Regions from separate parts of the Homo sapiens genome. Here region 1 is linked to region 2. The links come from fine-mapping of genetic effects on gene expression. A gene starts in region 2. The other region holds a variant in brackets. All regions are shown on one strand. Distances are between the middles of the regions.

Region 1 (4,263 bases), 59 kb before region 2:
CTGTAGTCCCAGCTATCGGGAGGCTGAGACAGAGAATTGCTTGAACCGGGGAGGCAGAGGTTGCAGTGAGCCGAGACCGCACCACTGCACTCCAGCCTGGGCGAAAGAGCGAGACTCTGTCTCAAAAAAATGAAATAAAAATAAAAATAAAATAAAATAAATATCCTTACTCTATCCCTTCTCCATATGCATGATACTGTGCAAATACTACTGCCTTCACAATACATGGATCTCTATACAAGATTTAATTTACTATACCCACAAAGAGAAAAGGAAGTATTCATCAATGCACTTCACCTATCATTGAGATGAAAAAGCAGACATTAGTGATTTGCTTTTCAAGTTCTAAACTCTTATGCTCAGATGAAAAAACAGAAGGGACAAGAAGACAGGTATTGTACAGCACATGGGTTAAGAGGAAGGAAATTCGTCTAGGGCATTCCCAGGCTCTGTCACACGGCTAGCAAAGTCATTCTAAAGGGGGCAGTTTTGCCTCACTGCCCCCACCCCAAGGAAATTTGGCAACGTTGGAGACATTTTTGATAGTCTTGACTGGGGATGCTACTGACATTTGGTGGGGAGAGACCATGAATGCTGCAAAATCCCATATGATGCACAGCTCAGCATCCTACAACAAAGAGCTCAAAAGGTCTATAATGTTATGTTTAAAAAAAAAAAAAAATCTGAGCAAAAACAACAAAACTGGAGGAATCACATTACCCTCAAATTATACTACAGAGCTATAGTAACCAAAACAGCGTGGTACTGGCATAAAAACTGACACAGAGACCAATGGAACAGAATAGAGAATCCACTCACCTACAGCGCATCCACTTTTGACAAAAGTGCCAAGAACATATGCTGGGGAAAAGACAGTCTCTTCAATAAATGGTACCAGGAAAACTTGATATCCATAGGCAGAAGAGTGAAAATAGACCTGTATCCCTTGCCATATACAAAAATCAAATCAAAATCTATCAAAGACTTAAATCTAAGACCTCAAAGAATTAAACTACCATAAGAAAACCTAGGGGAAAATCTCCAGGACATTGGTATGGGCAAAAATTTCTTGATCAATACCCCACAAGCACAGGCAGCCAAAGCAAAAATGGACAAATGGGATCACAAGTTAAAAAGCTTCTGCACAGCAAAGGAAACAATCCACAAGGTGAAGAGACATACCCACAGAATGGGAGAAAATATTTACAAACTATCTATTTGACCAGGGCTTAATAACAAGAAGATATAAAGAGATCAAACGACTATAGGAAAAAAGCTAATAATCCAATCAAAACACGGGCAAAAGATTTGGACAGACATTTCTCAAAAGAAGAAACACAAATGGCAATCAGGCATATGAAAAGGTGCTCAACACCACTGACCAATAGAGAAATGCAAATTAAAACTACATTGAGATATCATCACACCCCAGTAAAAATACCTTATATGCAGAAGAGAGGCAATAAAAAATGCTGGCAAGTATGCAGAGAAAAGGGAACTTTTGTACCCTGCTGGTGGGAATGCAGGTTAGCATAACCACTGTGGAGAACAGTTTGGAGGCTCCTCAAAATACTAAAAATTAAGCTACCATATAATCCAGCAATTGCATTACTGGATATATACCCCAAAGAAAGAAAATGTTGGCCATCTGTATATCAAAGAGATATCTGCATCCCCATGTTTGTTGCAGCACTGTTCACAATAGCCAAGATTTGGAAAGAACCTAAGTGTCCATCAACAGATGAATGAATAAAGAAAATGGAGCACTATTCAGCCACAAAAAAGAATGAGATCCTATCACCCATCCAACATGAATGGAACTGGAGATCACTATGTTAAGTGAAATAAAGCAGGCACAGAAAGACAAACATCACATGTTCTCATTTGTTTGTGAAATCTAAAAATCAAAACAATTGAATTCATAGACATATAGAATAGAAAGATGGTTACCAGAGGCTGGAAGGGTACTGAGGGGCTGGGGTGGGGGAAAAGTAAGTATCGTTAATGGGTAGAAAAAAAATAAAAGGAACAAATAAGACCTATTTGACAGCACAACGGGGTGACTATGATGAATAATAACTTAACCGTACATTTTAAAGTAACTCAAAGAGTATAACTGGGTTGTTTGTAACACAAAAGATAAATCCTTAAGAGGATGGATACCCCATTCTCATGATGTGGTTATTTCACATTGCATGCCTGTATCAAAACATCTTATGTACCTCATAAATATATACACCTACTATGTACCCAAAAAAAGTAAAAATTAAAAAAAAAAAAAAACTGAGCTAGTGATAGGAACTGGATCAAGTCATTTAATTTCTAGAAGGCCAAGTCTTATTTGAGTAATACTATCATTAACACAGCATACCTGCCTTGAAGGGTAGATGAGGGTACCACGAGAGACAATTCAAGCAAAGACCTTCATCCAGTTACTGAA[A/G]TGTTTATTGAATTGGAAGTATTTTTATTATTCTTAGTAATATTAAGGCCCGTCTGTCTTTCACTTAACAAGATGTGAGGAGAAGAAGCTATAAGAGGAGACAAAAATAGGCACTAATTTTAAGTGTATAATAGTATGAAGAAAATAAGATTCGGGACTCAAATAGTGACACTTGTTTCGTTCTGCAATATTTTTGTCTAATCCCATCATCATCATCAATAAGAAAGAAGCTGAAATATCACTCGGGAGGCTGAGGCAGGAGAATGGCATGAACCCGGGAGGCCGAGATTGCGGTGAGCTGAGATTGCGCCACTGCACTCCAGCCTGGGAGACAGAGCAAGACTCCATCTCAAAAAAAAAACAAACAAAAAAGAAGCTGAAATAAAAGCAGTCCCCCAGAACATTTCCTCATCATTCACCATGCCACAGTTCCAGACATCTTACTAACCAGGTGATTAGACAATACAGCATTGTGGGTAATATTTTAATCATGAGAAATTTATGCTAAAAGAGGATGTTAAAAAATATTCTCATATTAATATCATCTTTGAAATACGAGCTCTTCTTCCAACGATGAGTTTTTATGTAAAGTCTTCAGGGTTTTGATTTTGTTCTTTTGAGCTGTCAACGGTGACCACATCTAAAGAGGCCGCTTACATGTGTCTGCTGAACCTGCGGTAGGGTTTGAGGAATGGCAAAGTGTTCACTTAGAAAAAAAAAAAATTCATGGTCAAGTCCTTTAATTTGTTGACATAGTTGGAACTTGAAGATCAAGTTCCAGTTAAAATGACCTAGGAACTGAATATGCTTTTTCTGTTTTAGGTGGTGAGGAGGGCCAAACCACAAGATTATACATCAAATGCACAAACAAAACAAATCAGGAAAATCTCGGACAGCTGAAGTAGCTTTTGCGTAGGAATTCTTTGGCGCTATTGGCACACTGGTGTTTGCTGTCAGTGCCAATTACAATGATCAAGATGAGCTCTGCTTTCTTCTTTTTTTTTTTTTTTTTTCCATTCCTTAGCCAGCTACAAACTGGATGACAAAGCAGTTTCAAGGCTCAAACCTACTCATGCCCACTTCCTGAAATACTAAAAGAATGTAAGTGCTGGTGTGTGTATGTGTGTAGGTTTTCAAGGATCATTTTGAAAGCGAAGTACAACAAAGCTTCCTCGTTTGATGGTAAAATGGGCAATTGCAATACCTTTGTCTTAGATAGAGCCAAGGGCTAAATATCAAGTTAGATACTGGTTGTAGAAAGTAATATATAATTGTGTATAAAATAGCATGTAATTTCCCTATGGCCAAGCAGGAGAATATATACTGGTCTATAAAGGAAAACCAGCTCCACCTAAGCTCAATGAAAACCAGCTTATCTTTCCACGTCAACCTTTTGTATGTGAACTTCTTTCTTCTGACTTTGAGAAATAGCATGACCCCACTGTACAAATGACAGGATCACGACTAAACTGATTCTATATCTACCATGCCCATGAGAATTTGCCTGAATGGCGTTAAAATTTCAGTTGCTAAAACAGAAACCTAAACAAAGACCTTTTTTATTTTTTCCTTTTTACTTTGAGATATGTGTGTGTGTGTGTGTGTGTACATATATATTTACTTCATATATTTACCTATATATATCAAAATACCGTATTTTCAATTCCTAAACTGTGTAAGAATTGGCACATAAATATGAGTGAGTTTTATCACGATTATAAAGCATCAATTGTAAGTATTCTTTTTTTAAGTGTTCATTTTATTATAGTAAGAACATTTAATATGCTGTCTACCATCTTAACAAATTAAGTGTTTAATACAGT
Region 2 (4,263 bases):
TTCAAAGCCTGAGTGACTTGGCACCACTTCCCCAATTGTTTTTTATTTCCTTCGCATCCCTGTTGTGTCTACCGCTTTCACGTATTTGAGAGCCTAAATCATGTTAAGACGACTTGGAGAAACGCCCGATTTGCCTCCCAAGCCACGCAAGGATCCACCCAGACGCACGCCCGCGCGGAGACGCACGCTGGCACACGCGCTCACACACGCGAGCACACACACGCGCACACTACCCGGTTCGTGCGCGCGGGTCGCTGTTCCTGTTGCATTATGCAAAGGTGGCTGGGAAAGCGCGTTGACTTACATTTACATAGCCCATCTTCTCCCCACAGTATGTGACTAATACGTATCCCGGGGAGGAGGGAGCGCGGCTGGGGGTGCTAATCGGAAGGGAACAGACAGTGAGTGCCATCTTGCTGGGAGGTTCCAGAAGCAAAGCGCCAACGACGACAGTAGCGGTGGCCTCAGCTCCACCAGTAACTGCCGCTGGCAGGAGCACCACACGCTCTAGGAGTTTCCCGGGTATCAAGTATGGGTCCAGCCCGTCCCAGTTATCCTCTTCCCCTATGGCTTCATTCCCGTTGTCAGTACCCCGACCTCAGCTTGCAACCTTGATCTTGGGCTTGATTATAAATGACGAAAGACCGCGGCAGCCTTCAAAGTGCGGGAGCGAGCCCCGTACTGGTCAGCGCGGCGGAGGGATCTTTCCAGGAGGCCCCAAGCCCCCAAGCCTGTGGAGAGACTTGGTAACAGCTGGCAAGGCCTGCTCCAGCCACCCTCGCTGGCTCCTTGCCCCTGCATTCAGCGCCTGAGGGCGTTATTCGCCCTCTCCCTGCGTCCCACGCAAGCGGCTCAAGGAACTCACTCGATCCGGATTCCGCCTCGTATGCTCTCCAAGCCTTCGCCACCTCCGCAGGCGCTCTAGAAAGGCGTGATGGCCCCAGCTCAGTGCCCGCCAGCCCGAAGAGGACAAGCAGGGCTGGAAGGGACTTGGTTTTGGAAAAAGCCCCACCCGCCCCCACCAACTGGAAGGAAAAGGAATTAGTATCCACCGCATCTGTTTAACTGCTAATAGATCCCAGATTACGGGCAGGTAGTAGGTTGGTGTCTTTAGATACAACAGCCTGATAATAACGCTGGTGACATTAACAACAGCTTGTGGAGGGGAGAGGGTTGTTACTGGTGAAAGTTAAGAGATTCAATCTAGGGAAGTAGGAGACTGAACTCTGACAAGGTTAGGGGCACTGAGAACCCCAATTTAGCATCGATGCATCTACCAGGCAAGAAAATTTGCGTTTTGACCCAGAACTCAGTCATGATGCTCCGTAGAGGAGGTGGATTCGACCAGCAGACAGATGTCCCCAAAGTCGAGAGAGAGCTAAGCTGCCTATTTTCTCTCCAGGTGAAAGACAAAGCCTAGAGCACCCCACTTAAGATGACCACCCCCAGCTCTTTCAAAAAAAAAAAATCCCCCGAAGAGACAGCGTGGTGCCAGCGTAGCAGCAGCTCGGCCGGTTACTGGAAACTTCACCTGGCAACGCAGCCCCTTTTACCTGACGGCTGCGTCTTCTCCTTGCAATGGGCTCATCCGAATCCGACAGGGTCAGGGAGGTGGAAAGGGAAGACGCTGGCGCGGCAGCAGCGGGGATCCCGGGGCATGGTATTGTTTTAGGGGTCGCCGCCGAGGTCCCTCCTGCCCATCGTTGAGAACTGCCACCCTGATCCCAGGGCTCGGTGGACACGGCGGCGGGAGCGGAGATGCCGCCTCGCCGCTGCTGGGCACCAGGGACGGAGGACCAGAGGCGCACCTCGGAAAGGAGTAGCTCAGCGCCTTGGCGCGGAGATTTGCGGGCACTGATGATATCTCGAGCGCTCGTTCCTCCGCGGTGACAATGGATAATGCCAAACGCGCAAGTGACGGCGACAGGTTTCGAACGTACAACTAACTACAAGGTACCCAGCCTGAGACAGTATGCTGCTTTTCCCCTCCTCCTCCTCTCCCTCCTACCAGGGAGGGAACTAACTTAACCCTGTGTGCGCCTGACACTCCCTAGAGAAGCTGGGATCGACTAGGAAACCGCAGGCAGCGGCTCCCGGGGGCGAGAGCTTTGTTCACGTGCGTTTCCAGTGGGTGTGTTGCTGTCTAGGGGCACTCGCGTGGCAAGACGCCCGTGGCTGGCTTCCAGCGCCCAAGATTCAAGGAAGGGAAGGAGCCCTAGCGTTTCATCCGGACCAGACCCAGCCCTCGGAGTCTATTTTTTGCCTCCAGTTACCGGATTTATTGAAGTTGCCAGCGAAGTTGGTTTTATTCCTTTACTTCTCTGCTCTCCGCCCCCGTCCACATCCCCCAACCCTGTATTATTTCCTGTCCTAGCTGCGCTTTAAAGATTCGGAACTTTTCACTCGTTCTAGCTACAGATTTTAACTGTGTTCCGTGTGCGAGACGAATTGTGGAGGGCACCCACCCACCCATGCCAAGTGTAAATGAAACCGCAAGAAAAGCTGCCTCCCACTCACCCATCCAGTGTCCGAGTAAGCCTAATGACACACATTCACATAACTAAGAAGACACGGGAAGATAGGGGTGCGGAGGACGGAGTTTGATGTGTGAATGGGAAATGGAGAGAGGGGACAGCGCGCGCGAGAGAAACAGCGCGAGCCTGAGCCTTAGAATGGAATAAACGGGAAACACACACAAGAATGACGATGCAAAAAATGTATCTAAGTCCCAACATTGACAGCAGAGGGTCAGCTTTAAGCGCCTACATTTTGATCCGCGAAATTTCCCAGCTTTTTTGGAGGCGGTTACATAGAGAACACAGGAGCCTCTGCCTTGGCCGCCCAGATGCTTTGCATTTTGTAAACAGCTTTGACTAAGTGCTCTGGACTTCCAAGAAGTTAACTGGAGTGGAAGGCGAGTCATATTGTGGATGCGGAATGGAAGCTTAGACAAGAAAAAACTGTCAGCAGAGCGCCTCTGCTCTCACCGTCACACCCAAATGAGCCAGGACGTCGCTCAGAGCGCAAACTGAGATCCACACAGGGACATCTTCAACCGAATCTTTCTTCTGTCTCCATTCCGGACTAAGGAAAGAAAGAAAGAAATACGGAGCCTTTATAGAGTATTCAGAGGCTACACACATGGATCTTGCTGAAACGGAGTTATTTAAAAACAGAGAAAGTGTGTTTTCCCATGAGATAGATGTTATAGTTTCTCTCTGAAACATACCCAAGTCTATGGGTGTCAATAATAGCCATTTCAAATGCCTCTCTGAGCCTTGCCAGCCCCAGAAGAGGCTGTGGGAATGCTGCTTCCAGCTTCCCCTGTGCAGAACTCCGTTGTAAATCCTTCTGAGTTTCCAAGGTGGCAGCAGAGCATAGGGATAGCTCCTCAAGCTCCAGCATCAACAAGGAAGATCACATTTTAGGACAAATACTCATCTACCTGCATTTAAACATCCATTTTCGTATGTAAGTGTACATAAGTATCCGCAGGAGGTTCTTCCTTTGAAATCTTGATCCAGGAAAGCAGCATAATTATTTCATCTTTAAGAACACATTTTAAAAAGGCAAAGCAGGATCTTTAAAGCAACAAAGGTTTTGCTTTCTGATTTATGCTGCTAGAAAATGAATGAGATTGAAAATGGGGGAGGGGGTGGTTGCAGATTTACAGAATTCATACTTTAAATTATTGGTGTTTCTAAACCATGAGCAAACCATGTTATGAGTATGTGCCACCTATTAAAAGCTATTGGTTGCATCTATTGTAATCACGACAAGGAAAATTAAGTAAGAAAAAATATCACGCCAAAGTACAAGCAGAATCGTTGTAACAAATTTCTTATGCACATGACCTATGAGTCAGCTTTAGAAATGTGTGATGATGGGGCCAGAGGAAGCAAACGAATAGGAAATGTGGCTCAGGGACTCCAAAGAGCAATAATTTTGCAGACTTAGAAAACTATAACAATTAGGTTACTTTATTTTTATTAGGAAACTCACTGATCCATAAGAGAAGTGGGTGAAAGAAAAACAAAAAGCAAATCTGCAAGCTTCAAAAAACAGAGGGTCAGCCCACTATTCTTAAGACTTCAGTCCTCAATAGTTTTCCTTTCAATTGAAATTGATTGTCATCTCAAACACTTTAATCCCCCACCCGCGTGTTTCTTACATCATTCCCCATCTATACACACATAGGTACCTTGGCCTTTCTTTTCTAATACTTTGTGAAAGTAAAAATAACACAGTATAATAAGATCATGA

Direction of the effects. Positions count from the first base shown, and alleles are read on the strand shown. Sizes are in standard deviations (SD) of each study's normalised expression.
In carriers of allele A in region 1, the expression in spinal cord of the gene that starts at base 1,944 in region 2 tends to be higher than with G alone (moderate effect, 0.71 SD a copy in GTEx).

Evidence for each region. PIP is the estimated chance that this variant, and not a neighbour inherited with it, causes the effect.
Region 1: its variant is the best candidate, but not a certain one, in a credible set for the expression of FLRT2 in spinal cord (GTEx, PIP 0.79).

What each region holds. Positions count from the first base shown.
Region 1 is chr14:85,586,478-85,590,740 of GRCh38, reverse strand. The region is part of intron 1 of FLRT2 (fibronectin leucine rich transmembrane protein 2); the gene reads right to left. Among named protein-coding and RNA genes, the nearest start is that of FLRT2-AS1, 57 kb to the right of the region's middle. The variant A/G (reference allele first, on the strand shown) is at 2,441.
Region 2 is chr14:85,527,825-85,532,087 of GRCh38, reverse strand. FLRT2 (fibronectin leucine rich transmembrane protein 2) reads right to left here and starts at 1,944. Exons shown (of 2, transcript NM_013231.6): 1 at 1,554-1,944. FLRT2-AS1 (FLRT2 antisense RNA 1) reads left to right here and starts at 429. Exons shown (of 2, transcript NR_184170.1): 1 at 429-3,471.